Linked DNA regions of Homo sapiens. The protein of the gene in region 1 purifies or fractionates together with the protein of each later gene. This does not show direct contact. Each region holds a gene or a part of one and is shown on either strand. Other genes may lie near its edges.

Region 1 (4,212 bases):
TTCTTTACATATAAAACACTGCTCCTTCAGAGCCAAGCAAAGGATCACTCATTTTCCCCTTAACTGAGAACAAGGGCTGCACATGAACAAAACGCCTGCTTTAAAATGTACCCATGGCTGGATGCTGTGGCTCACACTTATAATCCCAGCACTTTGAGAGGCTAAGGTGGGTGGATCACTTGAGCTCAGGAGTTTGAGACCAGCCTGGGCAACATAGCGAAACTCTGTCTCTATAACAAATACACCAAAAATTAGCTAGGCATGGTGGTGTGTGCCTGTAGTCTCAGCTATTTGCAAGGCTGACGTGGGAGGATCACTAGAGCCCAGGAGGTCGAGGCTGCAGTGACCTGTGATTACACCACTGCACTCCAGCCTGGGAGACAGAGTGAGACCCTCTCTCTCAAAAAAAAAAAAAAATGTACCCATATTTGTTTTCATCAGGTATGGTAAGATGACAGACACAGAGAAAACTATCTCTGCAAGAAGAGTTTGTTATGCAGTTCCCAGGAGGAGAGGTGTGTCACGCCTTGCAGGGCCACACAGGAAGAACTTGGGTCAGCCAAGAAGCAGAGGGGGTGAGGGAAAAGCACGATCCAGCGCCTTTAATGTAGTTTCCAGCAGAAAGGCAAGGCAAGGCAGGGAAGCAGGCTTAGGATTGGCTAATCTGTATAACTTTGGCAGGCCCTGGCTATAGGGATTGTCCCTAGTTGTCCCATGCCTGGCCCTGGAGTGATTTAGGGCAGGGGGAATATTGGCTTGCTGTGTCAGAGTTTGATAAAGGAGGTGACTGGGGGTGTGGGCTCTGGATTGACTGGTTTGCATACGAAAGGCACGCTCGACCAAGTTGTTTACTCTCTCCCCAAAGTAGCTAGCCCTGGGAGGGGCAGTCTCTCCAGGATAATGCATTATAAAAACAACAACAGCACCTGATTAGTATAATGACATATGTTTCTCTTCACAGCAGTTTGTAATAGCAAAGGTTGGAAACCGTTGAATGGGATTTCCATCACATAAAGAACTGGTTATGTAAATTATGTTACACTGATACAATCCAATGAGCCTCCCTTCAGAGAGAGGCACCCTCATGGCCTAATTACTTCTTTAAGGACCCCATCTCAATACTATCACATTGGCAATAACCTGAATTTTGGAAGGGACACATTCAAACCATAGCAGAGATGTAATCAAATTAAGATGAAATCATTGGGCTGGGCCTAAGCCAATATGACTGGTGTCTTTATAAGAAGAGGGAAATTTGGACATAGACCTATAGACACAGGGAGAAGATGGCCATGTGACAACGAGGCAGAGACTGCAGTGATGCATCTATATGCCAGGCAACGCCAAGAAATTCCTCATGAAGGAACCAACCTTGCCAACACTTTGATTTTAGACTTCTAGCCTCCAGAACCGTAAGGTGATAAATTTCTGTTGTTTAAGCCACCCAGCCTGTGGTACTCTCTTACAGTAGCCCTCCTGACTAATATAGGCCCTTTCTCAACTTTCCCTAGAAGCCCAGGTTTCCTTGCTACAACCCTGGCAGAGGCTTTGGCACATTTCACCCCTCCTCTCTTTGTGATTGGTTTTCACAAAGAAGCTCAAAGTGGAGGAATGATCTCTGGACATGAAGCCTGAGGACCATGCAAGCTCCTTCCTGCCAGAGGCTCTGTTCTGGGTTCTACCTGACCTGGACTCTGAGGGCTCTGAGCAGGGAAGGGTTAGAACCCAGCGTGGATCAAACATTTGAGATGAATCAGCACTGATAGCTGGAATGTGAGCTCCCAAGTGGCTTGAGCTCACTCTGCTCAGGACCCTCTGCAGCTCCTGGGGGAACACTGGCACAGACGGGTGCACAGTTAATATTCAGTTAACACCGGCTGGCTGAATGAAGGGCGAGCTATCTTGAGCCTGACTTTTCTGATCCTTCAATGAGCATGCTAACATCATCCAACCCCTGACCTTGTGGTGAGGATCAAAGACGTTAATGCCCACTAAACGCTTTCTACGATGCCTGGAAACAACTGTTATCAATACTGTGCTATGTTTTAGTAAAGAGGGCTGTTCCCTGAGAGCAAAATTGGCAAGTGGGTCTCACCTCCCATGCTGACTCCAATTGTTGGGTGCGGTTGCATGGATTGATGTCAAAAGCCTCCCAAGGCCCAGTCTGGGCCAGATGCAGGGACTGTCATGATCCCTTAGCAGTGTTTGCTCTGGAAAAGGAGGAACAGGGACCTGGGTGCCATCTCTTCACAGCGCTCCACCCCTAGGGCCTGCTTAAATGGCACAGCCAGCTCCTCAGAGAGACAGGACACACTCTCCTTCTGCCTGCAGTTGTGAGGAAAGAAGGGGCACTGAGGAGGATGGGTCACCCCGGGAGCAGAGCCTGGCTCATATCCTGGTATCCCTGCAGAGGCTGGAGGTGGGGCCAGCACCACCTGAGGACATGTAGCCTTCCCAGGATTCTGGCGTGTGTTCCCATCCCTAGCAGGAAAGAAGTGGAAATTAGCCAATCACCCTGGAAGTGGGCAACCAGTCTTTCTCCCCTTTCCTGTGAATTCACTCAGGACACTGGGGACAAAAGACATCACAGACCCTATCTCCCGTGCTCTTTTACAGTGGCTATTTCATTTAGTACTAGGGGGCTTTTTGCCTGTATTTTATAAATGAGCAAAGAGGACTGGAGGGTCTGAGTGATTTGTCCAGGGTCATCCTCTGTCCTTTGGCTTTTACCTGTGTCACCACAGCCTCCTGGGGAGATGGCTGTGAAAGTGGGCAAAGGGTGAGTCTCAGCTTCACAGGGCTGCAGCATCAGCAGCCTCTCTTGCCTGTCCGTCAGCACTGACAGGGGCAACACCTGGCCTGGCACAAGGCTCTCCGCTTCTTGCCCTCAGGACTTGGAGTCTCTTGGAAGGAGCCTCAGCCCTTCTCTTGGTTCCTGCTTTTGTCTCTAGCCTTCCTAGAGTAGCTCAGATCAGTTCACACCCCTCTACCCACGACTACCCAGGAAAGGACATGATCCCTCATTAAGACCCAGCTATTGCCTAAGGGTCACTGAGGGCCTCAAACCCCAGAGGCTCTGTGGCAGGCACCTGGGAGCCCACTTGGCGGGCCTTGCCCTGGCCCAGACATCACAGACCACTCTCACTGCACTGGCTATTAAGTGCCTGCTCTCTACTAGGGATTCCTAGGGGGTGGCCAAGAGAAGGAAAGACACCCCCACAGGAAGGATGGGCCCAGAAACTGACTTTCCATGGCTCCGACGAGGGGTCCTGAGGCACTCTATCGAAGTGCAAGTCCCTGAATCTGTGTCCCAAGCTCTGAAAATGCAAGAGGTGCTTGGAGCAAACAGGGAGTGTCCTGTCACTGAAGGTCTGCAAGCAGAGGGGTAAGGGACTGTTTGCCTCCTACAGATTTCCCTTCTTTCTCTTCTTCTGGGCCTCTGGGCCAGAGACAGGCATTTTACTTGATGCGATCATCCTCAGCACATGCCTGACACATAGTAGGTGCTCAGTAATTGTTAGCTGTTGTTATTAACCATTATGTGAGTTTAGAGTGCCCGTCCTATTGCAGAGAGGGAGAGAGCAGAGACAAATGGTGATTCTAAGAACCTGTCCCCTTCCCTGGGACTCACTCCAGTGGCTGGTCGCCAGTTGCACCCACACGCGGCTGGCTGCGGGCAGGAGAGCTGGGCTCATTCGTTCTGGCAGCTGTCCCTGCAGATGAGGATCGAGGGTATGTGACTGCCTGAGCAGCTACTTCAATCCTAATGTCCCTTTAATAGCTCTCGTCAAATTGCCACAGCTCTCCCCAGAGATTTTCATGGCTATGGAAAATAAATAGCCATTATCTGACCTCCAGGGGAATGAAGATGTCTGCAGAATTCGGGGAAAAGCAGTTATAAAACTGAGTAGAGCCAGCGCACCCTTTCCCTATTAGCAACCTCTAAGGGAGTCCTAGCTACTGCCTAGGAAATCACAAAATAAATGTATTCACTCCTCAGACTCTCTTTTTTCACCTATTAGTATGTATATGAGTACATTTGGCTTGTGGTAGATCAGGAGAGAGAAAGAAAGAAAAAACAACTACAAAAATATGTAATGATTAGTTAGTCCAGGGGTAGCAGGAAAAGAAGCTGGTCAAGTAAAGGGTTTAATCCTTTTTTATTTTTATTATTTTTTTAGACAGGGTATCACGCTGTTGCCCAGGTTGGAG
Region 2 (3,500 bases), on another chromosome or scaffold:
CACCATTAGTCAATACACTTCTGAATACACACTGTATTAAATACAATTTTTTTTGAGACAGGGTTTCATTCTGTCACCCAGGCTGGCGTGCAGTGGTGTGACCACAGTTCACTGAAGCCTTGAACTCCTGGGCTCAAGCGATCTTCCTTCCTCAGCCTCTGGAGTAGTTAGGACTATAGATGTGTGTTACCACGTGCCCAGCTAATTTTTAAACTTTTTGTCGGGACAGGTTCTCACTATGTTACCCAGGAAGATCTCAAACTCCTGGCCTCAATCAATTACAGGTGTGAGCCACCACAGAGGGCCTGAAAAAGCTTTAACCACTTGTTTAAGAAGCATGAAGAACCATCACTACTATAGTACTAAATTGAATACACAGGCCTACTTCATTATATGACTGCATATATCAGCCTACAATAAGAATACATCCTGGTTCATCTTAACAAAAATAGTGGAGTGCTTCTGTTAAAATAATACGTTCTAACATCATACGATATTTCCAAGAACATTACCTTTGAGAAGTTTAATAGTTTCTTCAGATATGGGAAAATTAGAGAAAGCGCCTTCTTTTTGTTCCACAGGTATTTCCTATCAAGTAAAGGGCCATAGAAAGAAATCAATAATCACCTACACAAATTAATAGAGAACCTTCTGAGAAAGAGACAAAACAAGCTATCCTAAAGCAATTCTTCTAAACACATCACTTTAAAAATCAACCAAAAAGATACAAAAACCTTGATAGGTAACTCGAGATCTGAAAAGGAAACATTGTCATAAATCTATAAAACTTTAACAAAAGAAAAATCTGAGGCAAATATATACTGGGTAACTAGATCTCAACTAAGATCTCAACTAAGATTATGTGTGACTAGATCTCAACTAAGATCTACTCCATAACCATAATCAACAATATACTGATGGAAATGTCATTAGCCCTCTTCCAAAGCAGCATCTCTTGTATACACACATCCATAGAAAATGAACAAACATTTTATGAGGTAGCAGTCACTGTGGCATTATTTGATAGTAAGATATCTGAATGCTCAATACAAGTAGTAAGTAGATTTCAAGACATTTATATGAAGGATTATGTAACCATTAAGCGTACTTAACGAGGAAAATGCTTAGCTAGAAACAAAAAAGATACAAGATTGCACAGTACAATCCTAATCTGATTAAAAATAATAGATGCATATACTAAAAGTACTACAAGGAAACACCAAAAATTAACAAGATGACTTCTGTACTTGAAAAGTACAGGTATTAATATTTACTAAATGAATGGTGAAATTCCAGGAAGCATTTCTTTCTTTTTGCAAAATGTCTGCATTTTCTATTTTCTCTGGATCACATATTTTTTATAATCAGGAAAAAAGTTACAAATGTTGACCATGATCTATAGCAAAAAGAAAATCTATTAGAATTAGTATTTTTCAGCTGGGTGTGGTGGCTTGTGCCTGTAATCCCAGCTACTCGGGAGGCTTAGGCGGGATTATCGCTTGAAGCCACAAGTTCTAGACCAGCCTGGGCCACACAGCGAGATCCCATGTCTAAAACAAATTTTTTTAATACAATTCGTATTTCTTTCATAACTGAGTTTCTGAAAGATAACAGAATTAGGTTCTGGACAGACATTTTATCATCCTGTTCAACTCCAGGATGATTACTTAATGGCCTAACCAAAAGGACTTATGCAATCAACCTTTTCAGTAATTCCAATAATTTATTTGGTTAAACCCCTCAGAGGGAAACTAGGGCCCATTTACAAAACTGTATCTCTTCTGTTGACTGACTTGCAAATAAGCAGACCAAGACTCTCCCTAAGCTTAAGCAGTATCTGCTTATTTGTAAAGGAGGCATTGTGACACTATGCTAATTTTTTTTTTTTTTTTTTTAAAGACAGAGTCCGCTGGGAACAGTAGCTCATGCCTGTAATCCCAACACTTTGGGAGGCCCAGGCGGGCAGATCACCTGGGGTTGGGAGTTCGAGACCAGCCTGGCCAACATGGTGAAAGCCCGCCTCTACTAAAAATACAAAAAATTAGCCAGGCGTGATAGCACACACCCGTAATCCCACCTACTGAGGAGGCTAAGGTAGGAGAATCACTTGAACCCAGGAGGCAGAGGTTGCAGTGAGCTGAGATCGTGCCACTGTACTCCAGCCTAGGTGACAGAGCGAGACTCTGTCTCAAAAAAATAAAAAAATAAAAAAGACAGAGTACTCTTAGCTGAGCCACCATGCCCTGTCGTATGCTAATTTTTAAGATGAAGTCCCAGTCAGCCTAAGGTATCCCCCAACCCACAAGGTGCTGACACATCACATTTTCTCCTACTATTAAAGAGTACATATAGCAGTTACCTACTTATTTATCTGAAACAACAATGAAAGATATCTTCTACCCAATGAAGTGCAAATGTACCTGCTCTATCTCACTGTTACTTTCTTCACTGGCAGCTTCACTGGGGTTACAGTCCGGTTCAGGATGAGGAAATCCATTCTTCAGTTTGGGGCTTTTCTCTCTAGTTTCTCCATTCATTTCCTTTTCTTTCTTCATCTTCTTGGGCTTAGGAGCATCTATTTCTTCCTCAGAAGGCTCCTCATTTTTTGTCACTTTTTTGGTTTTAGAAGAAACCACTTTCTTTTCAATGGGCTCCTTTTTCTTTCTCAAACTTTTGGTTTTAGGAGAAATGTCATTTTGAGATGGCTCCTCTTTCTTTTTTGCCTTTTTGGATTTAGGAGAATTCATGTCAACTTCAGAAGGCTCTGCTTTCTTTTTAACTTGTTTAGCTTTGGGGAAAACAGTTTCTTCCTCTTCTGCTATCTCTTCAGTCTTATCAGATTTTGGCTTCTCTTTTTTCTCTTTCTAAAAAAAATTCATAAGGAAAATACAAACACTGAATAAGGCATTTATACATTTGCAACATTCATCAATTCTGGATTATTTCAAGATCATTTTCAACTTTAAAAAATACAATTTTGGGGCATTTCGACATTTGTACTTTCATGCTGTGATAAGGTAAAAATCAAAATAGTAAGCTTTTTCTAAAATCGCTTCTTAGCTATATATATAGACGGGTATATATCAATAGTTTCACTATCTTGGAAAATGAAGAGTGCCCCTTAGTAACTATTCAACTCATGTGGGTCAAACAGTTGTAAAACAGATTTTCTTTTTTGAGACAGAGTCTCGCTCTGTCGCCCAGGCTGTAGTGAAGTGGCACAATCTCAGCTCACTGAAACCTCCACTCCTGAGTTCAAGTTATTCTCATGCCTCAGCCTCCCGAGTACCTGGGACTACAGGCGCCCACCACCACACCCAGCGAATTTTTGTATTTTTAGTAGAGGTGGGGTTTTCCCATGTTGCCCAGGCTGGTCTCAAACTCCTGAGCTCAGGCAACCCACCCACTCCGGCCTCCCAAACTGCTAGGATTACATGAGCCACCGTGCTTGGCCTATAAACCAGATTTTCATAAGGGATTTGGATAAGCTCATGGGATAC
Region 3 (3,500 bases), on another chromosome or scaffold:
GTTCCCTGAGCACATATTTATACCAGGCTGACCAAGCCTTGAGTTCCTCTTCTCCCAAGGAGCTCAGCTAAGGGAACACAGCATGGCAAGTGCTATGAAGAGGGTAAGCACGGGACACTAAGGGAGCCCCAGGAGAAGCACTGCTTCCCCTTAGAGGCTCAGGACTAGAGGACCCATGGCAGTGCTCCAGGATGGAGAAGGCCAAAAGGCAATCCAGACCGAGGGAAAAGCCTATTCTGCACAAAGGCTCAGGACAAGAGAAGGGGTGCATGGAACCGTGGGCAGGAGCCTGCTCTGTCAAACAGGAGGGAGTGGAGACAAGGCTGGGGCTAGATCCTGAGGGCTTCACACGCCAGACCTAGCGACTGTTACTGTTGGCTCTGTGATGTGAGGGAAGCCTGAAGACAGCAACCTCATCCCTGCCCACCTCCCACGGTGGCTCAGACAATACCCAGGAGAGTGGAGAGAGCTAAGGAGCTATTAGGGTGCTGCTCTGGGTAAAGCAGGAACATGCACCTCTTGAACATTCCAGCCTCTTGCTCCATTCACACTGTCCAATCTTGGCCTGCAGCCAGAGGCCTGACACTATTCCTGTCCTTTCAAGGGCTTAGCACTGTGCTGGCCCAGGAGAATCACTAAGTTAATAATGAAACAAACTACACCACCACCCCCATCTTCTATCTAAAAAAAAAAAAAAAAAATCAGGATGACACAATGGCTCTGACCATTGTTTTTAATTTATGAAATCAAGTTTAACACACAAGAAGCCTATAAACACTGCAATACAGAAAAATTAAGCTGCTGCATTGAATTCTTACTCCAAAACAATGCAAATCTGCATGAGGTCTCTCCCGCTATGGGTGTGAGTGGAAGAGAGGGAGACTTTTTTACCTGGGGTTGGTGGTGGAGTGAAACACAAGGGTGGGAGAGGTTTTGCAAATAGCCAGAGAACAGAAACCAATGTGCAGTCACTGACACACTTGACCAGTTAATTTGCACTTGTACTTGGCTGTGGCTGTTCCGGCTGTGGCTCCTTCGGCTTCTTTGTCTTCTTCTTCTTCTGCTTGGAGAGACAGCTCAAAGCAGACTCGCTCTTACTTGGGGCAGACACAAGCAGGGGCGGCTTGCCAGACTGAGTGGGATACTTGGTTTTCTGGCTCTCCGTAAACAGTGGCTGGGACAGCAGGTGGCGCAGCTCCTTCTTCAGAACCTTCATCTGCTTTTGTCTCCGACGTTCTTCTTGCTGGTCAGCTTTTCCTCCTTGAAACACAATACAAAAACGATCCTATTTACTATGGTTTGTAGAAACATTTTGTTTCCCTTGATGGGTAACACAGTGAAAAATGTTTTAGAACTACTTTAGGGAGGCAGGGTTCAAAAGTTCTCTGAAGAAGCTAGTGGTGGCTTGGCAGGGGCTGTAAATGGATAACGTCTAACCATTTGCAGGGGATACACAGGACCGCTCTGTCCTTTTTTACTCCATAAAAATCCTCCAAGACTGGAATTATCTTTACAGATGAGGCAACTCAGGGTTAGAGAAGTCACCTGGCTCACATCACAGAGCCAGTCATCAGACAGAGCCCAGAACCCAAGTCTCCTGACTGAAGATCACTTTTCTTCCTATGACCCACCCACTTACTGCCCACCTGGGGTTTGGTGAGTTCACAATTACAACCCCCACCTCCCTGCCGCCCCAGGAGACACTGAATGCTTCTTTGTAGCCCAGCTCTCCTATGCCTTGCCACCAGTGCTGTGACTGCACATGGAGAAGCTGGCAGAGCCAAAAGGTTCCACCTCAGTCTGTCCTCAGGAAGGGAAGCCAGGGCCTCCACATCTTCGGCCCAAGCCCCAACCCTGAGCCACCAGAAATAGCTCACTGTCATCAAGCCCACTGGTTTGGCTCCTGGCTTCCATGCTGAGCAGACAGCAGTTAAGTCTGCCTCTGAATTTGCTGACTTGGGCACCGAGGTGTCAACATCTCTGCTGAGCTGCATACTTGGTGGTGTGGAAGGAGCATGGAGTTCTAGATTTGGTTCTACCACTTTTTAGACCAGGAGTTTTCTCAAGCAGGGACCGGGCAGATTCATCCCTGAAGCCTCAGCCTGTGGTCACATATAGAGTAGCAGCTCTGGAAATGCCTTGTGACAGAGCTGTTTCCCTGCACAAACTGCCTCTGCTGTGGTATCTAGTTTCCATATGTAAAAGAAGAGTACTTCCTGCTGTGTTCATGTCATGAAAGTGGAGAAGATCAAATGAGATAATGGCATGGAAGTGCTTTGTCAGCTTGGAAGGCAGGTGTAGTAGGAACCATAATGACAAATAACTTAAAATGTAATACTTTCTATTTGCCAGGCAATGCTATAAGCACTTAACATTTTTTAACTCAATCAGTCTTCACAACAATCCCATGAAGTAGGTAGTTGACTACTTCCATTTTATGGAGGAGAAAGCTGAGAACACAACAGAGGTTAAATAACTTGACTCAGTCACATAGTTAAGGCAATGAGCCGGCATTCTAACACAGGCAGCCTGGCCAGAGAGCCTGCTCCCTTCCTCACTGTACTCCACTGCCTGTCCATGTAAGAGGAGGCAGCTGAGGGCACAAGACAGAGACAGAGGAAACAAAGACTGACCGAGGGCAGTAGGCTCACCTGGGACCAGGGCCTGTTAGCAAAGAGGGGGAAGGACGCCTTGCTGATTTTGACAAGACCCACAGTAGTAGAGATGGTTCCAACAAAGCAAAAGTTAAAGAGAGATTTCAACTTCCTCAATTCCCATCCCGCCCAAGGGCTTACCCTTATACATGTCTTCTTCCAGCTCAATCTCCAGGGCAGCTGCTGCCTGCTCAATCCAAGAGTTGTGCAGGCAAGCCTGGAAGTTCCGATACTCAGATTTCTCAATCTGTCGAGCTAAACGGATTCGCTCCTGGGGGGAAGTAACAGAAAATATTCATCTGAAATAGAGTTCAGGCCTCTGGGAAGCAAAGTCTCACTTGAGTTGTGTTTGTGTGTTTAAGGCAGGTATCACTCTGCTGCCCAGGCTGGAGAGCAGTGGCATGATCATGGCTCACTGCAGCCTCAACCTCCTTGGATCAAGCAATCCTCCCACCTCAGCCTCCCAAGCAGCTGGGAGGCACCACCATGCCTAGGTAATTTCTTTTTTTTTTTTTTTTTTTTTTTTTTTTTCGTAAAGACAGGGTCTCAACTGTGTTGTCTAGGCTGGTCTTGAACTCCTGTGCTCAAGCAATCTTTCCACTTCAGCCTCCTAAAGTGTTGGGATTACAGGCGTGAGCCACCGTGCCCAGCAAGTAGTGTTTTTAAAAAGCTCTTGAGCCGGGCATGGTGGCTCACACCTGTAATCCTAGCACTCTGGGAGGCCAAGGCGGGCGGATCACCTGAGGTCAGGAGTTCAAGACCAGCCTGACCAACATGGAGAAACCCCGTCTCTACTAAAAATACAAAATTAGCTGGGCATGGTGGCGCATGCCTGTAATCCCAGCT
Region 4 (4,212 bases), on another chromosome or scaffold:
GTGGCTCACATGACCTCGCCTCCTGCCCCGCTAGGCCTGAGCGAGCTGTGTTCCGGCTGAGGAAATGGATCATCTTTCGATTGGTGAGCATTGTGGACAGCCTGCACCTGGAGATGGAGGAGGCCTTGACTGAGCAGGTGGCCAGGTGCGAGCTGTGCTGGATTCCCAGCTTCCCATGGGCGTGTGGCCAAGGAATGGGGCCCCTTAACTCGTCCTAGTTTGCATCCCCTGGAGCCAGAAGCCTTTGGGTTGAGTCATCAGTGGGGGGCAGGCACAAGGGGACTTGGGAATTCCTCAGGAACCCGTGAAGGGAAGGGGCCCAGGAGGCACCCCAGCTGCAGGGGCCTAAAAGGTTCAGGTGTGCTCTGCGCGCCCTGCAGGCAGCTTTTGCACGTGGGAGGTGTCAGGGAAGCCTTCTGCCCCACACCTGCCTCGTCTGTGCCAGTGCAGAGCTGGGTGCTCACGTCACCCTCAACATGCACGGTTGCAAGAGGGGGCTGTCCCATGTTCGCAGGAGCAGTGACCTGACTTGGCCATGACCACACAGCCTCCCATCTGTTGGTTCCTTGAGAGGGGCACTGACTCTCTCTAGCTCGGGTTAACCCGCGTTCAGCTGGGGATCCAGAGCAGAGAAACGGCCCCTTCCCATCCTAGCCCAGCCCAGCCCCCTCCAGCCTTGCCCGTCAGGCCCCCGAGGACTGTACCCAGGGCAGAAGGGCGGCTCCTCCTCCTCCTGGCCTTGTACCCTCGGTGGTACCATCCAAGGAGGGGAGCCTGTAAAAACCAATGGCAGTGAATGGCTATGGCCACTCTCCCACCCTCCCCAGGTTTTGTTTGTTCCACTCGTTCTTTGTCACAAAGAAGCCCACATCCCAGATCCCTGAGACAAAGCACCCGTTCTCCTTCCCTTTGGAAAACCAGGCCCGAGAGGCTGTCAGCAGTGCCTTCTTCAGGTGAGTCTTGGGCAGCCCAGGAGAGGTCCGAAGGTGGGAAGGCCTTGAGGGCGCCTGCTCCCTCCAGGTCCCCTAAGCTGGGAACAACGGCAGAGGCCCCCGGAGTTCTAGTAGGTCCTGGAGAGGCGGGAGACCGAGCCCTGGGGAGGGCGGAGGGAGGCGGCTACATTGACTCATCTGGTCTGCTGACCCCAAGCCCCATCCCTTGCCCAGTCTGTTGCAGACCCTCAGCACGCAGTTCAAGCAGGCACCGGGCCAGACCCAGGGTGGGCAGCCCTGGACCTACCACCTGGTGCAGTTCGCAGACCTCCTGTTGAATCACAGCCACAACGTGACCACCGTGACACCCTTCACTGCGCAGCAGCGCCAGGCCTGGGACCGGTGAGCACGTGGGATTTCCAGGGGGTGGGCAGGACGCTGCAGTCTGACTGGTGCAGGGGCCTGGGAATCGCCTGTCTCCCCGCAGGATGCTGCAGACTCTGAAGGAGCTGGAGGCCCACTCCGCAGAGGCCAGGGCTGCTGCCTTCCAGCACCTTCTGCTCCTCGTGGGCATCCACCTCCTCAAGGTACTGGGGCCTGGGAGGGAGGGGCTGTGAGCCTGGGGTTCTATGGCACAATGGGCCCCCTACCGAGAGGCTTTTGAGGGCTGTGCGGGTTTCCAGGAAAGGTTCTGGGGGAGTTAAGTTGGGAGGTTTTTGAAGCCAACTTTGTCACAGGTGGAAACATCCCTCCGGCCACTTAGCGGCACCAGCTGGTGTCCTAGGCTTTCCATGCAGGATCTCGTAATCCCCACAGCTTTGAGGCAGACACCCCCTCTCCATGTTTGACATGGAGAAACTAAGACTCAGAGGCAAAGGAGCTTGCACTGTACCCCCTGCTGTGGGAACACCTTCTGGCAACGGGCTCTCCCGCTCGGTTCTTCCCATCAAGAAGCCCTGACCACATTCGAGGCTCAGTACCCTGATTTCTTTTGAGTTTTCTTCTCATGACATAAGCTGCTCTTATTGGGGCTGCTTTAGGTCTTCTGTAGCCTGAGTAGGTGGGTCTCTTGCTTGCTCCCGTCTGGCCACTTGACTGTGGTTGCCTTACTTGCCAGCTTTGGTTATTCTGAGCCCAGCATGTGGATGAGCTGTTTGGGGAAAGGTTGGCCACGATGCCCCTTCCAATTCTTGACGTCAGGCCTTTGATAGCAGCAGAGTCCTGGTGATTCCAGGACACATGTGGAGCCTGCCCCCAGCCTTGGGATCTCCGAACTTGACTTGGACAGAGGAGGCTGCAGTTTGCTGTGTCAGAGCCTTAGATAAAAGGTGCAGCCCTGGCCAGGCTCGGGGCTCGCACCTGTAATCCCAGTACTTCCGGAGACCAAGGCAGGTGATCACGAGGTCAGGAGTTCAAGACCAGCCTGGCCAACAGAGTGAAACCCCTTCTCTACTAAAATACAAAAATTAGCCAGGTGTGGTGGCAGGTGCCTGTAATCCCAGCTACTCAGGAGGGTGAAGCAGGAGAATTGCTTAAACCTGGGAGGCGGAGGTTGCAGTGAGTTGAGATGACACCACTGTACTCCAGCCTGGGCAACAGAACAAGATTCTGTCTTAGAAAAAAAAAAAAAAAGGTGCAGCCCAGAGGAGGACGGGGACCTGCTTGGGCACACAGCCTGGGAGCCGGAGAGCAATGACAAGGGCTTTGGGCTGCTTTGTCCCACCCTGGCCTAAACGTTCAAGCTGCCGACTGCATTATGAGGGGAAAGTCTGCTTTTTAGGTACCAAAGATCACACAGTTTTCAAGAGCTCCTGCACACGCACATGCGCACACCACGCCACCTCACTCGAGTCTGGGGTTATCCCCAGTCAGATGAGTTCAATGTAATTAAATTAGTTAAAACTAATGACTTTCAATTCTGTCTCTCATGCCAAGCCAAGCATGGAGGGAATAATCTAGAATTATGAATTGGGGGCTGGGGCTTGCTGGCTTCTCTGGGACCCTGACCATCCTTGTCAGGTTCTGCCTTTCTTGAGTGTCCAAGGGGGAGTTGGACTCCTTGTCCCCTTCAGGCTTTTGGATCCTGTAACTGCGTATTAGGTGTGAAAAAGCCGTCAGCTAGCTGGGCGCGGGGGCTCACACCTGCAATCCCAGCACTTTGGGAGGCCAAGGGGGGCAAGGGGGTGGATCACGAGGTCAGGAGTTCAAGACCAGCCTGGCCAACATGGTGAAACCCCGTCTCTACTCAAAATACAAAAATTAGCCGGGCATGGTGGTACACGCCTGCAATCCCAGCTACTTGGGAGGCTGAGGCAGGAGAATGGCTTGAACCTGGGAGGCAGAAGTTGTGGTGAGCCGAGATCAGACCACTGTACTCCAGCCTGGGCAATAGAGCGAGACTCCATCTCAAAAGCCCTCAGCTCTTGGGGTGTCCAGCTGGGGTCTTCTGTTCTGGATTGTGGGGGTGACTGGCCAGGGCGGGCCAGTGGCTGGGTGTTGGAGGCTTCTTGATGCCACTGCTGCCATTTGGCCAGCCCCTTGCCTGGTTTAGAAGGGCTGGGGACAGGGCCTGGCCCCAGTGTGTGTCCTACCCTGCCCGCAGTCCCCTGCAGAGAGCTGTGACCTGCTGGGTGACATCCAGACCTGCATCAGGAAAAGTCTGGGAGAGAAGCCCCGCCGGAGCCGCACCAAGACCATCGGTGGGTCCTTGGTCACGAGAGGGACTAGAGTGGTGGGGTGGGGCCAGCGGTCCCCTATCCGGGCTCAACCCCTCCCTCTTGCAGACCCCCAGGAACCCCCGTGGGTAGAGGTGCTGGTGGAGATCTTGCTGGCCCTGTTGGCCCAGCCCAGCCACCTCATGCGCCAGGTGGCCCGGAGCGTGTTTGGCCACATCTGCTCCCACCTGACCCCGCGTGCCCTGCAGCTAATTCTGGATGTGAGTTGGGACCTTTGGGAGTGGAATGTGGGCTGGGGCTCACTGAGCAGCGAGCTGCACCAGGGGTGCCGCTTCAGCCTCCAGCCTCCCTGCCGGGAGCCTGCGGCCGGTGGGAGGGGTCTCAACGAGGCCTTGGCCTGGCCTGGCCGCCTCTCCTAGGCTCCGTTTTCTTCTGGGAAATGGAGGTCTTTGGTCAAGGCTGAGTGGGGCCTGGAGAGGAGGGCGGGGGCTGCAAATGGGTCAGTGGCTGGCACCCCTCCCCAGGTGCTGAACCCCGAGACCAGTGAGGATGAGAATGACCGTGTGGTGGTGACGGACGATTCTGATGAGCGGCGGCTGAAGGGT
Region 5 (4,212 bases), on another chromosome or scaffold:
TTGAGATGCAGTCTTTCTCTGTCACCCAGGCTGGAGTGCAGTGGCAGAGCTCGGCTCACTGCAACCTCCATCTCCCGGGTTCAAGCGATTCTTGTGCCTCAGCCTCCTGAGTAGCTGGGACTACAGGCACACACCACCACATCCAGCTAATTTTTGTATTTTCAGTAGAGACGGGGTTTCGCCATGTTGGCCAGGCTGGTATTGAACTCCTGACCTCAAGTGATCTGCCTGTCTCGGTCTCCCAAAGTGCTGGGATTACAGGCATGAGCCACCTCGCCTAGCCAGTGTTTAATTTTCTCTTCCTGCATTAGTTTGCTGGGGATAATGGCTTCCAACTCCATCCACATCCCTGCAAAGGACATGATCTCATTCCTTTTTATGGGTGCATAAATCCTATTTTTCTAAGAGTTGCTAATAGATAAGCTTTTTTCTAGGGAAGCAAATGTGGGAAACCAAACTTTCCAAAGTGAGAAATAGGATAATAGGGAGAGGAAAATATGAACAAATGAATGAGAAGTGTGTGGAAATGGATCAAAACAGATCTGAGTGATAAGGATTGGATTGTGGCTGATTGGGTAGCTAATTCACTGTTTAGAAAGTGGAAGTCATGTGGCAGTACACCTGGTTTGTTCCCCAGATTAGCTTGTTAGCTGATTAGTTTTGTTTACTTCTGCTCAAACTATCCTAGCCAGCCACCTCCTAAATTTATAATTTGAAGACATAAAGCAAGGACGTGAACTGATTTGTTCAAATCTGTATCTAAACTGGAGATACTCTGCTGAAAATATTTGCATAGATTTGAACAACTGTACTTACATGAAAAAATTTAAGGTATGTTTTAGTAATATTAAGACATTGAGGCCAGGCACAGTGGCTCACACCTGTAATCCCAGCACTTTGGGAGGCTGAGGTGGGCAGATCACTTGGGCCCAGGAGTTCAAGACCAGCCTGGGCAACATGGCATGGTGAAACACTGTATCTACAAAAAATACAAAAATTAGCTAGGTATATTGATGTGCACCTGTAGTCCCAGTTACTCAGGAGGCTGAGGTGGGAAGATTGCTTGAACCCAGGAGGCAGAGGTTGCAGTGGGATAAGATCATGCCATAGCACTTCAGCCTGGGTAACAAGAGTGAAACCCTGCCTCAAAAAAAAAAAAAAGAAAAAGAAAAAAAGGTATTGAGTGTTTTACTTAGCATAGCATAGCCTTCAAATCAGAAATGGAGTTTGCATTTAAAATGAATATTATTTTTGCCTATTTTGGTTTTTCCATAGGTACAATAACTTGCCTGAAATTCTATGGCAACAGGCATTTAATCAGTGGAGCGGAAGATGGACTCATCTGTATCTGGGATGCAAAGAAATGGGAATGCCTGAAGTCAATTAAAGCTCACAAGTGAGTCGGGCTCTTTCCCTTTGGCATTCTCGATGTGCCAGTCAAGTTGGGGACTAACTTTTGGTTTCATTATAGAGGACAGGTGACCTTCCTTTCTATTCACCCATCTGGCAAGTTGGCCCTGTCGGTTGGTACAGATAAAACTTTAAGGTAAGTCATTAATGCTCAAGAGCATTTATCTAAGGTGTGTGTTTTACTACAGCTCTCCACCATCTAAAAATACTGTTATACAAGGGAAAGGTCAAAAGCTGGTGAACCTTTTCATAGTGGTTCATAGTGGTAGAATGAAAATGACAAGCTCTGTTTTCTTTCTTTTTTTTTTGAGACAGAGTCTCGCTCTGTCTCCCTGCTCTGTCGCCCAGGCTGGAGTGCGGCGGCGTGATCTTGGCTCACTGCAAGCTCCGCCTCCCAGGTTCATGCCATTCTCCTGCCTCAGCCTCCCAAGTAGCTGGAACTACAGGCGCCCACCACCACGCCCGGCTATTTTTTGTATTTTTAGTAGAGACGGGGTTTCACCGTGTTAGCCAGGATGGTCTTGATCTCCTGACCTCATGATCCGCCCGCCTCAGCCTCCGAAAGTGCTGGGATTACAGGCGTGAGCCACCACGCCCAGCCAACAAGCTCCGTTTTCAAACATGCAATTATGCTGCAGTCATCATAGCTGTGAATTGAAGATTTTAGAAAGGGAAACCTTTTGAAAATACAATGGATACGAGATGTTAAAGGGATATGGGAATGAAGCAAGTCTTAATCCTGCCTCATAATATTTCAAAATATTGCTGTAAGGAAGATAGCAGGTCTTCTAAATAGCCAATATTTAGTAAAATGTCACTTAAGTCTTCATTATGCTTGTTCTTTTACGCTTAGTAAAAGTTAGTTGGTGATCACACCGTAAGTGAGCTTCCTGTTTTGCAGAACGTGGAATCTTGTAGAAGGAAGATCAGCATTCATAAAAAATATAAAACAAAGTGAGTATTTTTGTTTGAAATGCAGGTTGAGCATTCCTAATCTGGAAATCTGAAATGCTCCAAAATCTGAAACTTTTTGAGCACTGATGTGGTGCCTCAAGTAGAAAATTCAACACCTTACCTCATGATGGGTCACAGTCAGAACCTTGTTTCATACACAAAATTATTTAAAATATTGTGTAAAATTACCTTCCGGCTAGGTGTATATGAAGCATAGATGAATTTCATGTTTAGACTTGAAACATGAGTTGCATGGGTTTTATCCTCGAGATATTTCATTGTATATATGCAGATATTCCAAAATCCAAAATCGTTCTGGTCCCAAGCATTTTGGATAAGGGATACTCAACCTGTATATTTTACAGTGACTTAATGGAATATGAATATAGATATACATTTTTACATGTGTGTATGTTACACATTTATTTCCCTGCATGGTGGTGGTTACCTCTGAGCAAATGCCTTGGGTTACTTTCTTTTCCCATTTTAGACTAGATTCTTTTTGTGGCTCTGCCACCTGCCTTTGATTTTTATTTTGTTTCATTTTATTTTATTTTATATTTTTTATTTTATTTTATTTTTTGAGATGGAGTCTCGCTCTATCACCCAGGCTGGAGTGCAGTGGCGCTATCTCAGCTCCCTACAACCTCTGCCTTCTGAGTTCGTTATTCTCCTGCCTCACCCTCCCAAGCAGCTGGGATTACAGGCGCGTGCCACCATGCTTGGCTAATTTTTTGTATTTTTTGGTAGAGAGATGGGGTTTCACCATGTTTGCCAGGCTGGTCTCAAACTCCTGGCCTTAAGTGATCCACCCACCTTGGCCTCCCAAAGTGCTGGCATTACAGGTGTGAGCCACTGCACCTGGCCCACCTTTGACTTTTTGAACCTAGATTATTTTCTAAAAAACTTGACTTGTAAAATGTGTTACGAAGATGAAATAGGATAATGAATTTGAAAATGCACAGTATAAATATTTGCTATTTTTATTACTATGATCATTTTATGTTTTATTTACAAAATAAATAAACTTCGTTTTTTTCCACTTACAGATGCTCACATAGTAGAATGGTCCCCAAGAGGAGAGCAGTATGTAGTTATCATACAGAATAAAATAGACATCTATCAGCTTGACACTGCATCCATTAGTGGCACCATCACAAATGAAAAGAGAATTTCCTCTGTTAAATTTCTTTCAGTAAGTAATCAGAAATCATTGACCAAAGTTTGTGGTGATGGTTGGAACTGTTGATGACATTCTGGATGTTATTACTCTTTTTCCTCTCTCCTAGGAGTCTGTCCTTGCAGTGGCTGGAGATGAAGAAGTTATAAGGTTTTTTGACTGTGATTCACTAGTGTGCCTCTGCGAATTTAAAGCTCATGAAAACAGGTATTTTTACCAATCTTTGGTGTATATGTCTAGTCTTAATAAAAGGTATATATGCAGTAGTTTCATAAGCCAGGTTATATGTTTTTATTAACAACTGCAGAAATAATCAGACATATCTACATGTACAGTATATGGTATCTGTAGTCTAATAAGGTGGTGGAAGATGTTATCTTCCTGGCATTTAATAATGCAAAAGTGGGCCGGGAGCAGTAGCTCACGCCTGTAATCCCAACACTTTGGGAGGCTGAGGCGGGCGGATCAGGAGGTCAAGAGATCAAGACCATCCTGGCCAACATGGTGAAACCCCGTCTCTACTAAAAATAAAAAAATTGGTGTGGTGGTGCACGCTGGTAGTCCCAGTTACTCGAGAGGGTGAGGCAGGAGAATCACTTGAACCCTGGAGGCGGAGGTTGCAGTGAGCCAAGATCGCACCACTGCACTCCAACCTGGTGACAGAGTGA
Region 6 (4,212 bases), on another chromosome or scaffold:
ACCAAGGAAAAGCTCCCTGTGGCCCAGGGTTAGGGGAACACAACTACACTCTTTCCCTGCTTTGTCACTTCATTTGGTGTCACAGAAAGTGTGTAAGCTCTGCCCAGCTCAAGATATACGGATTTCTCCATCAAAATATAATTGGCAAAAAAGTATATACACACACATATACACATATATGCATGCTATACCTAAATATTTATATATAAAATATGCAATAAAACTAATCTCTTACACATTTTTTGTTTTTTAAGTATTCAAACAATCTGTATGCACAAAGCACTTCTGTGTGCTGTTGGCTACAGAAGGCTAGCAGCATATTCTTATTACAATTTCATGAATCAGGAAACTAAACCTCAGAGATGGAGCACCTCACTCCCCTAGAGCACAGATGTAAATCGGCCTCCATAACCAACCAGCTACATGAACTAAATGGACACCTCTGACATTAAATTGCACAGCCAGAGTCTTACCATGAAAATGAAAGACAGCACAGCCTGGGACAGAGCAGGGGCCTGGCAAGCGGGTGGTGACCAGCGAGTGACTGCAGGCTAGAACCAGTCCCTCAATTTCCAGCCCAAACCCTTCCTAGGACACCACACCCACCTCCCACACAGCCAAGCCATTCCCAACCCTCCTCCCTGTCCCCACCCGGCTCACCAGGCTGGGCTGGCTTCCCCATGTTCCTGTTCTGAATGATGTTCAGAGCCAGGGAAGGAGAGAAGGTACTGAACTGGTAGGAGAGCAAGGCTAGGAACCGCCGTCGGAAATCTGTGGGGTGCCATCACGCAGAGTTAGAGGTCTGGAGGCATCCCCGGCAGCCCCCAATCACCTCATTGTCTCCCCCAAACCCCTACTCCTCAGTCACCTTTCCAGAAGGCTGCAAGCCAGCCTCCCTGGTCAGCCTCATCCTCATCAGTGAGCGTCTTCAGCATGATGCACGAGTGCTCTCCGGTCAGGTCATTCTGGGCAACACAGAGGTTTAACTGGCACCAAGAACCCCCTTTTTTTGAATAACCCATCATTGATGAAGGGTAAACACTCAGAGAAGAAAGGCTTAGTGCTTCCGCAGGCCTCTCCTTCTTTCCAGGCTGGGGGTAGGCGCCCTTCTCAAACAGCCCTCGCCTTCACCTTCCTCATATCACCTCAGTTCACACACAACAGCTGCAAAGATCACTGTCCTGCAATCTCCTCAAAAGTGTCACAGACACAGAGAAGAGCTGCTGGCTCTTCTGGGCCTGCCTCTTGCTCGGGACGTGCGGGAGGGAAATATGTGCTCCTCTCAGGTAGATGCTGAACTCAGTCATTAGGGCTTAAGCGCCACACAATCCAGTCAACATGGGTTTGATGCCTCACAGCAGGAACTCCAGGGCCAAAACCTACACCTCAGTGCTGGCAGCCAGTCTGCAAGTGCAGGCTTCTTTAGGTGTTAAAATTGTGACTATTTTTACATTTTTTACTCCATAACAACAAAGCCCCACACCATAAAAACACCACCAAGTCACAAATGAACAGTGCACAGTGCAAGACCACACGGACACACCGCAGACCACACCACAGCTCACTAGCTTGCGTTCTCCTTGCAGCTGACAGCCAAACTTACATCCTCAGCCTCCACCAAATGTACTGACAGAGACTCAACCCATCTCTGCAGCTCCCTGCCTGCACGGAAGCAGCCCAACACCCAGCAGTCCTCACCAGTCCCACTTTAAACCCTCGGACGGACACTGGACACTAGCCTCTGATACTGACTTTGCCCTCTCCAAAATCAAACCTCCAACACTTCCCTCTCAGCCGATGGACTCCCCTCATCTGGGAAGACAGAAGCACTCAGAAGACAATGTCTTCATCCTCCCAACCCCAGATCAGCCAGCCAACTGATGCCTTCCATTCCCACGCTCTCTGCCTTCCCTGTTCCGAAGGATGAAGTAGGTGGTCACCTCTCTTCCTGAATCTCGAGTCCCACCCACCACCTCCTCAAGGCCTGCACTCTGGCAGTCAGCCCCCCTCACCCATACCACTAATTGCAGGATCGAACCCAGCAGCAAAAAACATTCTCTAGAATCTCCCATCGGACAATCCTTCTTTAGCGCCCATCTCCCTCCAGCGACCTTGTTTCTCTGCTCCCTTTCGCTTCCTGAAAGAGTCGCCTGTTCCCCTTCTAGTTCTTCACCTCCTCTTCCCTCTGGCCAGGCCAAAGCCTCCACTCCACTGCAGCTGCTTCAATGCAGCTCACCGCTGCTGACAAATCCAATGGCCAGCTGTCCTCATCCTCCTCATCCTCTCAACAGGGCTGACTCCCATTCCCACTTTTTCACCTTGACGTGTGACACCACACCCGACTTTCTCTTGCGCATCAGGGCTGTTCCTTCTCAGTCTTGTATGTGCTGTGTCCTCCTCTTCATTCCTCTAAACGTTAGGGTCCAAGGAGTCACTCTCACATCCTTTCATTGGCTCCAGATATTTTTCATTCACTCAACAAAAGTATTTACTGAACACAAACTACACAGCAATTGCTACTCTAAGTGCGAGGAATACAGCAATGAACACAACAGACAAGAGCTCCGTGCCCTCCTGCAGTGCATTCTATTATGAATATGCTGATGGCTCCCAAAGCTCCATCTCTAGCCCCAAACTTCCCTACCTCCAAATTCCTGTAGTCAAATGAATGCCTAGTCCACATTTCCACTTGGATGTCCAATAGGCATCTCATATTAACATCAAAAAAGAACTCCCACTCTTCCCTCCAAATCTGCTCCTCCTGCAGTGAGTCCCATCTCCGACAGCACCTCCAACACCCAGTTTCTCAAGCCAAAACTCTAGGAATTACCCTTGATCCTCCTGTCCACTCTCCTTTCCCAGAATCTGATGAACAAGTCCACGTGTACCTCTGCCATTTTATGACTAAGCTCAACGCATGCACCGTGTAGTCGGAGAAGAAATGTGTGATGATGTGGCCTGTCACTGAGGATGGCTGTTTCCATGTCCATCAGAATAAACCTCTTCAGAGGCACAGCCACCTGCTCAGAGCGATGCAGCAGGGAGGCACTAGGGCTCTTTGCAAGGACAGGCCTGTCACCTACCATAACGGTAAACCTAAACTTCTCCTCTGCTGGATGCCTCACTCACCGGGGTCTGTCTCAGATAAACAGGAACAAATCCAGCTCGTTTCCAGAACCTGCAAAGATACAAAGACAGTAGGTCACTGTGTGTGGCCTCTGGGGAGTGGCTGATAGACACACAAGGGCAAGAGCCAGGAAGAGCACGCCACAAATAGCAGGCTAGCACCGATACCAGCTACCAACAGAGACACACAGCCCACAGAACTCTTCTTTCTCAATGCCAAGGAGTGATGCCGTGGAAGGAGGGCAGGCACTTACTTGAGGAGCCTGGGGGTCAAGCCATAGGAAACACCCAGGTAATCCAGGCGTTCGGCAGGCCTCTCATTCAATTTGAGGAGTAAAGGAGGCAGGTCCTTCCGGGGAGTGATGACCTCTTCCAACAAGCTGACAGCCTGGGAAGATGCCAAGGAGAGAACACAGTCCATTCAGCAGAGGGAGAGAGACATCGTCAAGCACCCTGCCGCAGCGCACTCTGGACTTAGCACAACAAAAACTGGGAGAGGTTTCTTGGTTTATTGCTGTGGTTTTCAAACTATGAGAACACCGGAGTCAAGCAATCATTCTCAAAACACCTCAACATGCATAGAATCACACTGCTTCAGACCTCTAGAATGCAGGAAGACAGCCAAAGAGTTTAGAAACGACTGACAGAGGCCGGGAGTGGTGGCTCATGCCTGTAATCCCAGCACTTTGGGAGACTGAGGCGGGTGGATCACCTGAGGTCAGGAGTTTGAGACCAGCCTAGCCAACATGGCAAAACCCCATCGCTACTGGAAATACAAAAATTAGCTAGGCACGGTGGTGTGTGCTTGTAGTCCCAGCTACTCAGGTGGCTGAGGCAGGAAAATTGCTTGAACCTGGGAGGCAGAGGTTGCAGTGAGCTGAGATCACGCCATTACACTCCAGCCTGGGAGACAGAGCAAGACTCCATCTCAAAAAAAAAAAAAAATGCCCAACAGATTTACAAAGGGACAGGCAGGCTCCTGTGATCCAGCATGAAGTCCAGGTTCTATCACCTGACAGCCTTAGGAAGTGACAAACCTCTGAGCTTGAACTTTTTTTTTCATTGCTTGAGACAGGGTCTGGCTCT
Region 7 (4,212 bases), on another chromosome or scaffold:
GTTTTTATGGTTTTAGGCCTAACATTTAAGTCTTTAATCCATCTTGAATTAATTTTTGTATAAGGTGTCAGGAAGGGATCCAGTTTCAGCTTTCTGCATATGCTAGCCAGTTTTCCCAGCACCATTTATTAAATAGGGAATCCTTTCCCTATTTCTTGTTTTTGTCAGGTTTGTCAAAGAACAGATGGTTATAGATGTGTGGTATTATATCTGAGGGCTCTGTTCTGTTCCATTGGTCTCTATCTCTGTTTTGGTACCAGTACCATGCTGTTTTGGTTACTGTAGCCTTGTAGTATAGTTTGAAGTCAGGTAGCGTGACTCCAGCTTTGTTCTTTTGGCTTAGGATTGTCTTGGCAATGTGGGCTCTTTTTTGGTTCCATATGAACTTTAAAGTAGTTTTTTCCAATTCTGTGAAGAAAGCCACTGGTAGCTTGATGGGGATGGCATTGAATCTATAAATTACCTTGGGCAGTATGGCCATTTTCATGATATTGATTCTTCCTATCCATGAGCATGGAATGTTCTTCCATTTGTTGGTATCCTCTTTTATTTTGTTGAGCAGTGGTTTGTAGTTCAAAGAGGAGAGACTCTTAAGAAGTGATTAGGCCTAATGTTGTTATCTTGGGAGAAGGTCCCTTATCACCAGTGAGTTATAAAAAAGTGAGTTTGGCCCTCTGTTGGCTCTTGTGCTCTCTTCCCCTTGTGCCTTCTGCCAATGATGCAGCAACGAGGCCCCCACCAGGTGCCAGACAGACACCAATGCCATGCCCTTGGACTTCCCAGCTCCAGAACTAGGAGCCAAATATTTATTTTATTAGCAGTACAAAGTTTACGGTGGGAGATCAGAAGAAAAGCACTTAGTTTGCTAATCAATTATTCATCTGTAAAAGTAAAACTGCTAAAAAACAAAAATGCTAATTAGAAGGAAAAGTATCTTTTCTCTGGCTCCCTTCTCAAAATTCTGACCAATAAAAAAATTATCAAGCCTCCCAAAAAGACTGAAATATATTTTAAACCAATTTTATAGAGGTGATACTACCAGCTACAATCTTACATCTTGGTAACTTATAGCAAATCTAGTCCATTAAACAATGTATCTTCTGCCTCCAACCAGATTCTACATACCCTACTGTCATGACTTCTCCAGAGTTCTTGTCGGTAACAAAATTGTTTGCCACAGTCATAAGCAATGATTGAATAATCTGAATTGGAAACAAAAAAGAGATGGGTGCTGATTAAATGTCTGCATACACAAACACATAAGAATGAAAGGACAATAGATTATTCATAGTGGAAAACCCAGCCTTCCACCTTCAGTTTAGGAATTGGAAGTAATCAAGATTAAGGAAGACAGAAGAAAACACTCCACTTAGGAATTCAGTGTTTTTCTTGGCTATCCTCAGACTAAATCAAAGAAAGGAATTACTCTATAAATTTACTAATATTCTTGACCTCCCCTAGTTATACAAAATTTGCTTATTAAAGAAAATCAGAATTCTAAACAACTTGTCTGAAAGAAACTTCTTTTTATGAGACGTACAACTGAACTTCTGTGTAGATCCCCTTAAGAGTTAGTGTCTCTTCTATCTATTAAAAGAAGAAAACGGTGAGGGAAGGGGGGACAGTAACCCTTGTGGGAAAAATGACCCTTGTTGTGGGAAGTCAGAGACCCCGAATGGAGGAACCAGCTGAAGCCATGGCAGAAGAACATAAATTGTGAAGATTTCATGGACATTTATTAGTTCCCAAAATTAATAATTTCTTATGCCTGTCTTTGCTGCAATCTCTGAACATAAATTGTGAAGATTTCATAGACATGTATCATTTCCCCAATCAATACTCTTGTGATTTCCTATGCCTGTCTTTAATCTCTTAATCCCGTCATCTTCATAAACTGAGGATGTATGTAGCCTCAGGACCCTGTGATGATTGTGTTAACTGCACAAATTGTTTAAACAATATGAAATCTTGAAAAAAGAACAGGGTAACAGCGATGTTCAGGGAACAAGGGAGATAACCATTAGGTCTGGCTGCCTGAGAGCCAGGCAGAACAGAGCCATATTTCTCTTCTTTCAAAAGCAAATAGGAGAAATATTGCTGAATTCTTTTTCTAAGCAAGGAACAGCCCTGAGAAAGAGAATGTGTTCCTAGAGGTAGGTCTCTGAAATGGCCGCTCTAGGGACATCTGTCTTTTAAGGTTGTAGATAAGGGATGAAATAAGCCCCGGTCTCCCGTGGCACTCCCAGGCTTATTAGGATGAGGAAATTCCCGCCTAATAAATTTTGGTCAGACTGGCTGTCTGCTCTCAAACCCTGTCTCCTGATAAGATGTTATCAATGACAATGCGTGCCCGAAACTTCATTAGCAATTTTAATTTCGCCCTGGTCCTGTGATCTCGTCCTGCCTCCATTTGCCTTGTAATATTTTATTACCTTGTGAAGCATGTGATCTCTGTGACCCACACTCTATTCTTACACTCCCTCCCCTTTCGAAAATCACTAATAAAACCTTGCTGGTTTGGAGCTTGTGGGGCATCACAGAACCTGCCGACATGTGATGTCTCCCCTGGACGCCCAGCTTTAAAATTTCTCTCTTTTGTACTCTTTCCCTTCATTTCTCAGACCATCTGACAAGAAATAGAAAAAAACCCACGTTGAATTATCGGGGGCAGGTTCCCCCGATAGACCCTGAAGTACCTAACAGTAACACTGTCATCCATGCCCTAGGTCCAGAAGTCAGGTTACAGGTTCTCACCTCTGGGGGTACTAGGTGATGAGATGCTTGTGCAGCAAACAGAAGGATCTTGGTTACTTCTGAAAACATAAGAGAACAGAAAGGTCATGGTCAGTGTATCACCCTGCCTCTGAGGACCACAGCAAACATGGCAAGCTCATTCTGGTCTAAATGGTATTGCTGCGTATTCCACCTGGAACACTCAATCCCCAGATATCTGCTTGGCTTACCCCCTCACTTTCTTCAGGTCCCTACTCAATAGCTGCCTTATCAAAAAGTCTCTCCTGACCACACAATGTAAAACAGAACCCGTCCCGACACTCCCTATTGTCCTTATCCTGCTTCCTTTTCCTTCAAAACACTTATCTTTACCTGGACATATTATATATAGCACATCTACATCTGCCTCCAGATGTAAGCCATGAGGGTAAGGACCTTGTTTTACGTTTACTGTGGAATTCGTACTGTCTTAATGCAGTGCCTGGCATAAAAATCATTAAATAAATACTTGCTGAATGAATGCATACACACACACACACACACACACACACACACACACACACACACACACTGTCTCTTTTCAAAGGGGCAGCATAGCATAGGTAACAAACAAGGCCACTGGCAAAAGAAGTGAGGTGAATCCTGATTTTCCATTTATTTGCTGAGTGACTCTAGTCTTTTTTTTCCCTCTCTTTGTATACCTCACAAGATTAATGTGAGGATTAGACAAAATGACGTATGTAAGGCACTTAGCACAGTGCTTGGTCCATGTTAGATACTGAATAAATGTTAGTTTCCTTCCTACTTTGGTTCAGGTTCAAAGACAAGAACAATCATCTCTTCTTTCCTGCTTTTGTGTTGTTTTTCATTGAGAATGCATGCAAGGTCAATGTGAGCAGTGAGATCAAATCTTAATATCTATTATGAAGATGCAATAAAACGTCAATTTTTTAAAAAAGAATTTTCCATGAGTATTTACAGTATTACAAGAAGACTTGCTTTGAGAAACCAATTTGTTGTTGTTGTTTTCTTTTCTTTTCTTTTTGAGACAGAGTTTTGCTCTGTCACCCAGGCTGGAGTGCAAGGGCACAATCTCGGCTCACAGCAACCTTCGCCTCCTGGGTTCAAGCGATTCTGTCTCAGCCTCCTGAGTAGCTGGGATTACAGGTGCCCGACACCACATCCGGCTAATTTTTGTATTTTTAGTACAGATGAAGTTTCACCATGTTGGCCAGGCTGGTCTTGAACTCCTGACCTCAGGTAATCCACCCATCTTGGCCTCCCAAAGTGCTGGGATTACAGGCCTGAGCCACTGTGCCCGGCAGTTGTTGTTGTTTTAAAAAAACAATAGTTTCTTAAAGTTGAGGGTAACGACAAACCCATAGCAAACTCTAGAAAGAAAACAAGGGCTTCTCTTCACATCTCTAATGTAGAGCACACTGCACTCCTGTCTTTAGTGATTCCAGAACAAAAGACTTT

The links.
Region 2: the proteins of RBM28 (region 1) and DDX21 purify together in Homo sapiens (affinity purification with mass spectrometry; one large-scale study listed by BioGRID and IntAct). This does not show direct contact.
Region 3: the proteins of RBM28 (region 1) and DDX24 purify together in Homo sapiens (affinity purification with mass spectrometry; one large-scale study listed by BioGRID and IntAct). This does not show direct contact.
Region 4: the proteins of RBM28 (region 1) and MYBBP1A purify together in Homo sapiens (affinity purification with mass spectrometry; one large-scale study listed by BioGRID and IntAct). This does not show direct contact.
Region 5: the proteins of RBM28 (region 1) and PAK1IP1 purify together in Homo sapiens (affinity purification with mass spectrometry; one large-scale study listed by BioGRID and IntAct). This does not show direct contact.
Region 6: the proteins of RBM28 (region 1) and NAT10 purify together in Homo sapiens (affinity purification with mass spectrometry; one large-scale study listed by BioGRID and IntAct). This does not show direct contact.
Region 7: the proteins of RBM28 (region 1) and SDAD1 fractionate together in Homo sapiens (co-fractionation; one large-scale study listed by BioGRID). This does not show direct contact.

What each region holds. Positions count from the first base shown.
Region 1 is NC_000007.14:128,298,613-128,302,824, forward strand, and holds part of RBM28 (RNA-binding protein 28), read right to left. Parts: 3' UTR 1-4,212. UniProt on the Homo sapiens protein: Nucleolar component of the spliceosomal ribonucleoprotein complexes.
Region 2 is NC_000010.11:68,959,170-68,962,669, reverse strand, and holds part of DDX21 (nucleolar RNA helicase 2), read right to left. Parts: intron 2,865-3,500; coding exon 2,421-2,864; intron 589-2,420; coding exon 513-588; intron 1-512.
Region 3 is NC_000014.9:94,050,203-94,053,702, forward strand, and holds part of DDX24 (ATP-dependent RNA helicase DDX24), read right to left. Parts: intron 2,926-3,500; coding exon 2,796-2,925; intron 1,261-2,795; coding exon 989-1,260; 3' UTR 1-988. UniProt on the Homo sapiens protein: ATP-dependent RNA helicase that plays a role in various aspects of RNA metabolism including pre-mRNA splicing and is thereby involved in different biological processes such as cell cycle regulation or innate immunity.
Region 4 is NC_000017.11:4,545,265-4,549,476, reverse strand, and holds part of MYBBP1A (myb-binding protein 1A), read left to right. Parts: intron 1-34; coding exon 35-145; intron 146-827; coding exon 828-953; intron 954-1,166; coding exon 1,167-1,334; intron 1,335-1,419; coding exon 1,420-1,519; intron 1,520-3,534; coding exon 3,535-3,631; intron 3,632-3,715; coding exon 3,716-3,867; intron 3,868-4,131; coding exon 4,132-4,212. UniProt on the Homo sapiens protein: May activate or repress transcription via interactions with sequence specific DNA-binding proteins. Repression may be mediated at least in part by histone deacetylase activity (HDAC activity).
Region 5 is NC_000006.12:10,701,094-10,705,305, forward strand, and holds part of PAK1IP1 (p21-activated protein kinase-interacting protein 1), read left to right. Parts: intron 1-1,275; coding exon 1,276-1,396; intron 1,397-1,471; coding exon 1,472-1,546; intron 1,547-2,311; coding exon 2,312-2,364; intron 2,365-3,413; coding exon 3,414-3,559; intron 3,560-3,653; coding exon 3,654-3,751; intron 3,752-4,212. UniProt on the Homo sapiens protein: Negatively regulates the PAK1 kinase. PAK1 is a member of the PAK kinase family, which has been shown to play a positive role in the regulation of signaling pathways involving MAPK8 and RELA.
Region 6 is NC_000011.10:34,135,944-34,140,155, reverse strand, and holds part of NAT10 (RNA cytidine acetyltransferase), read right to left. Parts: intron 3,515-4,212; coding exon 3,381-3,514; intron 3,179-3,380; coding exon 3,130-3,178; intron 966-3,129; coding exon 869-965; intron 772-868; coding exon 661-771; intron 1-660. UniProt on the Homo sapiens protein: RNA cytidine acetyltransferase that catalyzes the formation of N(4)-acetylcytidine (ac4C) modification on mRNAs, 18S rRNA and tRNAs.
Region 7 is NC_000004.12:75,963,010-75,967,221, forward strand, and holds part of SDAD1 (protein SDA1 homolog), read right to left. Parts: intron 2,814-4,212; coding exon 2,755-2,813; intron 1,203-2,754; coding exon 1,126-1,202; intron 1-1,125.